Linked DNA regions of Homo sapiens: region 1 is linked to region 2. The links come from fine-mapping of genetic effects on gene expression. A gene starts in region 2. The other region holds a variant in brackets. All regions are shown on one strand. Distances are from middle to middle. Region 1 has its middle 15 kb from the start of GBGT1. Region 2 holds the start of RALGDS (ral guanine nucleotide dissociation stimulator).

Region 1 (2,895 bases), 28 kb after region 2:
GTGGGCACTGCCTCCCCCTGGTGGCCGGCACTAGCACAGCAGCAGCAGCCTCAGGCAGAAAACCCAGAAAACAAAACACACACCTTTGTTTGGGTGTTGTCAAGGTAGCAGCTCTCCTGAGTCCCAGGGGGTCAAAGGAGCAGAACCTGCAGGCTCCAGGGGTAATTCAAGGCGCCTCAGAAGCTTCATTTGCTCCCCTCTTTCCCTCTGCTGGTCCTGGGGTGTCCAGTTCACTCGTGAGGCCTCCTCACTCCAACCAGGGCAACGGCTCTGGCCCCACTTCCAAATAAGAACCCTGAGGCTCCAACAAGGACAGTCTTGTCCCACAAGAGTTGTCCAGTGCTTGGCCACGCTCTGCACCACCCCAGGCCCTCAGCCCTTCAGCCCCCCCGGCTTCTCTTGCTCAGAAGAACCTCCAAGAAGAAGGCATTTTCCACAGACCTCGGTGGGTAGTGGGGGCATCCCCAGTGGAGACCTAAGGCCGACAGACACGTCTACGAGCCTGTGGGACCCTTGGAGTCACCCAGGCCAAACATTCCAATTTATAGAGCAGGAATTTGAGGCTTCCTTTCCTACAGCCCCGTCCACACTGAAGGGGTCTTTTCCTGCTTCCAGGTGATCACAGCGGTGAACACAGAACCCCACAATCTGTCCTCTCCAGGCTGCCCCAGCCCAGACAGATCCTGGGAACCTTGGAGAATCCCCGCCCATCAAGCTGGCGTGTCCTCCCCTTGCCCCCCACCCCGTGCCATGGCCCCAGGCATGTTGCTGGGTACTGGATGCCCCTGCCCGTGGCAGAGTAGCCCCCGCCCTCTTTCTTCTTTCCCCCAGTCACTTCCCCAGCGTCCCGTCCTACTCTGAGCCCCAGGAAGTGTGTGGTGTGTGTGTCTGCGTGTGTGTGAGCATGTATGCGCAGGCCTGCGCCTGTACGTGCGCGGAGAAGCCCAGGCAAATGAGCCCACATGGGAGATGGGCAGGGGTCCCCAGGATCTTAGAGGCTGTCATTCCCAAAGCAAACCCCACGGGAAGGGTGAGCCGAGCCCTTCCTGGCCTAAGAGGCCGGAACCCTCCCTTCATCTCTGGACTCCGCCAACTTCGTGTGCCCCGGGCGAGTCCCTGCCCCTCTCCTGTCCTCAGTTTCCCTACTGTCCCGGGCGGGGTTGGACGCGGAGCTGCGTAAGCGCACGCTCAGCGTGGACGCGGCGCCGGGCTCCCTCCCCCCGGTGGGTGTGGGCTGGGGCATACGGTCCTCCCTCCACCCGCGACGCGAGGCTGGGGACGGCGCGCACTCACCTGGCAATCTACCATCATCCTCAGCCTCGGTGGCACATCGCCGGCCCCAGGGCGGGACCCGGGGCTCGCAGAGGCCGCTCGCCTGGGCCCGCGCGCGGCGCAGGGGTGCGCCCGGCTGCGGGGCTCATGGCGCGGCCTCCGGTCCCCGCCGGGCCCAGGACTCTGCGGCCCTCGGGGCCGCCCCGGCAGCCGCCAGCGCCGCTCCCATTGTC[T/TGCGCC]GCGCCGCGCCGCGCTCCGGCCGCTCGGGCCTCGCCGCTCGGTTCCGCCCCGGCTCCCCGGGCTCGGGCCCGGGTGGGCGGGGACAGCCGCGGCCCCGCCCCAGCCCGCCCGCAGGTGCGAGGGGCGCGCCCCGCCGCGTGAGCTCGGGGACGCGCTCGGGGGCGCGCTCAGGCCTCCCTCCCGCGGGCCGACGCGGGTGTTCCCCCCGCGGGGCAGCCGGGCCTGTTGTCCAAGGCCGGGCGCGCACACGGGGCCTGCGCGGGACCGCAGACAGCGCGTGCACGTCACTCCGCTTCGCCGCGCGCACGCGCCACGCTCCCAGCGCCATGTGCGGCCGATCTCACGTGTCCGTCCGCCCCAGCCGCCTGCTCAGTACTCCCCACCCCGCTAGGACCTAGGGCCAACCTCGCCCCAGCCAGGCGGGGGCCGCTGAGTCGGCGCGCCGGCGTCACCAAATATACACGTTCACCCTGGCGCCCAGCACCCCGATGCCACCTGCTGGACTCGGCTCGGCGGATGGCTGGGAGCTGGGGGACCCGAGGTGACAGCGAACTCAGCCTGGGCAGGGAGAAAGTCAGGTCTCCCCTTCCCCTCCTCTTCCCCACCTCCCTCCTTGTCTTCCCTGACAGCACCCGGGACCACAAGGTCCAGCTGCAGCTTCAGCTGGTGTAAGATGGGGCTCAAGGGAGCCTGGGGGAAGGAGGCCTCACACTGGGGTTGAGCGACTGTTGGGGGTAGTCAGTGTTATTAGGGCTAACTGATTTCGTCCCTTTTTATTTTTTATTTACTTTTGTTTTTGAGATGGAGTCTCGTTTGTTTGTTTTTTGAGACGAAGTCTCACTCTTGTCCCCCAGGCTGGAGTGCAATGGCGCGATCTCGGCTCACTGCAACCTCCACGTCCCAGGTTCAAGCAATTCTCCTGCCTCAGCCTCCTGAGTAGCTGGGATTACAGGCACCTGCCACCACGCCCGGCTAATTTTGTATTTTTAGTAGAGATGGGGTTTCACCATGTTGGCCAGGCTGGTCTCAAACTCCAGACGTCAGGTGATCCTCCCACCTTGGCCTCCCAAAGTGCTGGGATTACAGGCATGAGCCACTGCACCAGCCGCAGTCTCCTTCTTGTCGACCAGGCTGGAATGCAGTGGCTAGATCACGGCTTATTGCAACCTCTGCCTCCTGGGTTCAAGCGATTCTCCTGTCTCAGCCTCCCAAGTAGCTGGGATTACAGGTGCACGCTGCCACCACCACGCCCGACTAATTTTTGTGTTTTTAGTAGAGACAGAGTTTCACCATATTGGCCAGGCTGGTCTCGAACTTCTGACCTCAGGTGATCTGCCCTCCTCGGCCTCCCAAAGTGTTGGGATTACAGGCGTGAGCCACTTTGCCTGG
Region 2 (2,895 bases):
CAGGGGTCCCTCTCCAGCCGCCAATGAGGACCAGAGCCCTGGATAGATGAGGGTTGAGGGAACACGTCTGGTCCGGCCATCTGCCAAGCTCAGGAGGAAAGGGTCTCTCAGGCGTGTGGTGTTCCCCCACCAAGAGCTCTGCCCAACACTGGGCGGAGAAACAAGTCGCATCCAGGCCCTGTCTAGGTACCGGGACACCAAGAGGCACGAGACTCAGGCTAACAATCGCCAGCAATCACAACGCGCCACAGTCTAAAGCCATGAAGCGACTGGAGACGCAGCAAGGCAACACGATGCCGCACGGGGACTCAGGAGGTTCACTGTGAAGGCTGCAGCCCAGCCAAAGCTCTGATGGGCCCTGAGCCCCCGATCCAGGAATGGCCTCTGTGCAGGCCCTGTGCCCAGGCAGAGCAGGGCGAGGGGGGCATCTCTGGATTCCACTCCCTCTGCTGTGTAGTCAGCAGCAGTCAGGTGGGAGGCAGATGGCACCACCCAGAGACCCAGGGCACACGAGAAACAAGCCCCCGCCCTCACCTAGTCACCCTCCCCTCCATCCATCACAGGTACACCACTCCCTTCTCTGAATCCTACCCAGTCCTTACCGATTCAGGGTGTTGGCACTCTTTCCAGTTAAGCAGAAACAAGTCTTGCCCGCCCTGGGCCTGGGCCACCCTCCTCCCCTCACCACCAGGACATCTGGTCCCACGTGTTGGAGGCCTGCTGCTCCACCCCATCCCCCGACCCCCCCCCCACCCCGCTCTGAGCAGCCCCGATGTCCCTGGTCACCAGATCCACATCTGCCCCAAGTAGGGTCTGTCTGGAAGGCCCCTATGGTCTCATCACCTCTGAGGATTCTAGGATTTGGCCTTCCCGACCACTTGTTCCACACCTGCATCGTAAAGGCTAACGACGCGCTGCGGGCCCTGGGTGGGAACTGAGTGAAATAAGGCACAGGCCACCGATGTAAACAGGGACAGTGCCGCAGAAAAAGGTCCACCTGGGCTGCAGCGGCCTTGGTGACAGCAGGCCCTGGAACGGTATTGAGGGGCGCAAAACCCCAGCCGTGGTCCCTACTGTTGGACGGGGCGCGGCGGCAGCCCCCACTGCCCACCCTGCTGGCTGATTTCTGCAGAAGGCCCCGACCCCCACCTATGGAGGAGAGAGGAGGGAGGCGGCCCGCTGGGATCGCCCGGCCCCGTCCGGGGCTCGCCCCGACCTGCCCAGCTCTGCCGCGGGTGGGGAGGCTCCGACGCACCCCCCGCCCGACCGCCCCAGCTCACCCACCTCCGGGCGCGGCAGGTCGGGGTCTAGCTGCGTGAAGCTGTGCAGCACCACCGGGCAGCTGTCGGGGACGCCCACCTCCAGGCGCACGGCGTCCCACACGCTGCGGCTCCGCCGGGAGCCCGGAAACAGCGGCTCGGCGCCGCCAGCAGGCCCGGCCGCCTCGGCCCACATGCGCTGCACCATGGAAGGCTCGCAGCGCGGGCGCGGGGCCGGCCCGGCGCGCGGCGGGGGCGGCGGCGCGGCCCGCGCGGCTGGGCTTTGCCACCGCTGTGAGCCCGCGGCCCGGCCCTGCTGATGTCAGGCTGGGGGGCGGGGCCGGAGGGGAAGAGGGTGGGGCCGGGGAGGGGCGGAACCGGAGAGTCCGAGGGACGCGTGCGTGCGCGCGCCCGCGGCCCCGCCCTCGCCGAGGTCAGACCCGGGGCGGGACCGGGAGCCTGGAGGGGCGGGGTCTGAACAAAGAGGGCGGGGCCGGGGAGGTCGAGGGGTGCGCGTTGGCTGGGTCTCCCGGAGGACCGGCTGTCACGTGTGTCGTGGGGCCTTGGGTACCCCGGTTAGGCACCGTTTGCGTGTCACGCTGCTGCAGTGCGTGTGTTGCGTAGGGCTGAAATGTGTACGTGCTGATCATGTGTGGGGAAGCCGCCCTGGAGTCAGCTACCCCGAATTCCAGCAAAGCCTCTCCCCAACTCTGTGGCCTTCCACAAGTTGCTTAACCCCTCTGAGCCTCACTGTTTCTTCATCTGGAAAATCTGGGTAGTGAAAATGACTTCCTCAAACAGTTGCGGGGAGGATGACATTACGTAATGGACATGAAGCACTCAGCACTGAGCACCTGCACCTGACTACAGGCTCAGGCGGAGTTTGGAGAGGCTGACCATGTGTTCAGTGACCCTGTCAGTGCAATTGGAAATCCTGAGTGTGGGGCTGTGTGTGCAGTGGGGGAAAGGGTCAGAGAGTGGGGCCCTACCTTTTTGGGGCAAAGCCCCACACTATCCCCTTACAGACACCCTCAGAGGAGGGGAAGCCAGGGAGGTGGGGGAGAGCGGAAGGCACCAAGGTTGGGGCTGAGAGGCATCTGACAAGGAGGAAGGCATCAAGAGTGACAACGCTGGGCAGAGCACATGGCTGCGTGGCCTGTCAGCTGGGGCTGCTTGTGGCTTGGACATCCCTGGTCTCAGGGTGGAAGTGGGGCTGCTGGGGCTGAAGGGGAAGCAGGGACAGGGACATCCTCAACTACTCTTTCTGGAAGCCAGTGAGGAAGGAAGACAGCCTGGGGCTTAACAGCAGGGCCAGGAGAATGGATGAATGAATGGGACCCTTCCTCATGCCTCACTCATCACTGGGCCTGCCCTGGCCTCAGCCTTCAGTCTTCATGGAGGCCAGCAATTGCTGCCAGCAGCCCTGGCCATGCCAACCTCCCCAGGTCTGGTCCGTACTATTGGGCCTCAGTTTCTCCATCTGTAAACTGAGAGGGCGGGACCAGACAGCACATTCCACGAGCACATCTTGCCCCCTTCCCAAGTGCCAATCCTCAGACACCCACGAAACACTTCCACTGTGACTGGAGTGAGGCGGCAGTTCATCCGTTCAGAACAAGACCCCCATGTGCACACG

What was found.
Region 1: its variant is fine-mapped to the expression of RALGDS in whole blood (INTERVAL, PIP 0.97).

Annotation. Positions count from the first base shown.
Region 1 is chr9:133,147,670-133,150,564 of GRCh38, forward strand. It overlaps a transcript of RALGDS not described here. Among named protein-coding and RNA genes, the nearest start is that of GBGT1, 15 kb to the right of the region's middle. RefSeq lists an enhancer at 1,181-1,828 and silencers at 1,238-1,327, 1,358-1,867. The variant T/TGCGCC (reference allele first, on the strand shown) is at 1,506.
Region 2 is chr9:133,119,688-133,122,582 of GRCh38, forward strand. It overlaps RALGDS (ral guanine nucleotide dissociation stimulator), which reads right to left and starts at 1,553. Exons shown (of 18, transcript NM_006266.4): 1 at 1,285-1,553. The coding sequence starts at 1,467. RefSeq lists an enhancer at 457-1,153 and a silencer at 1,133-1,842.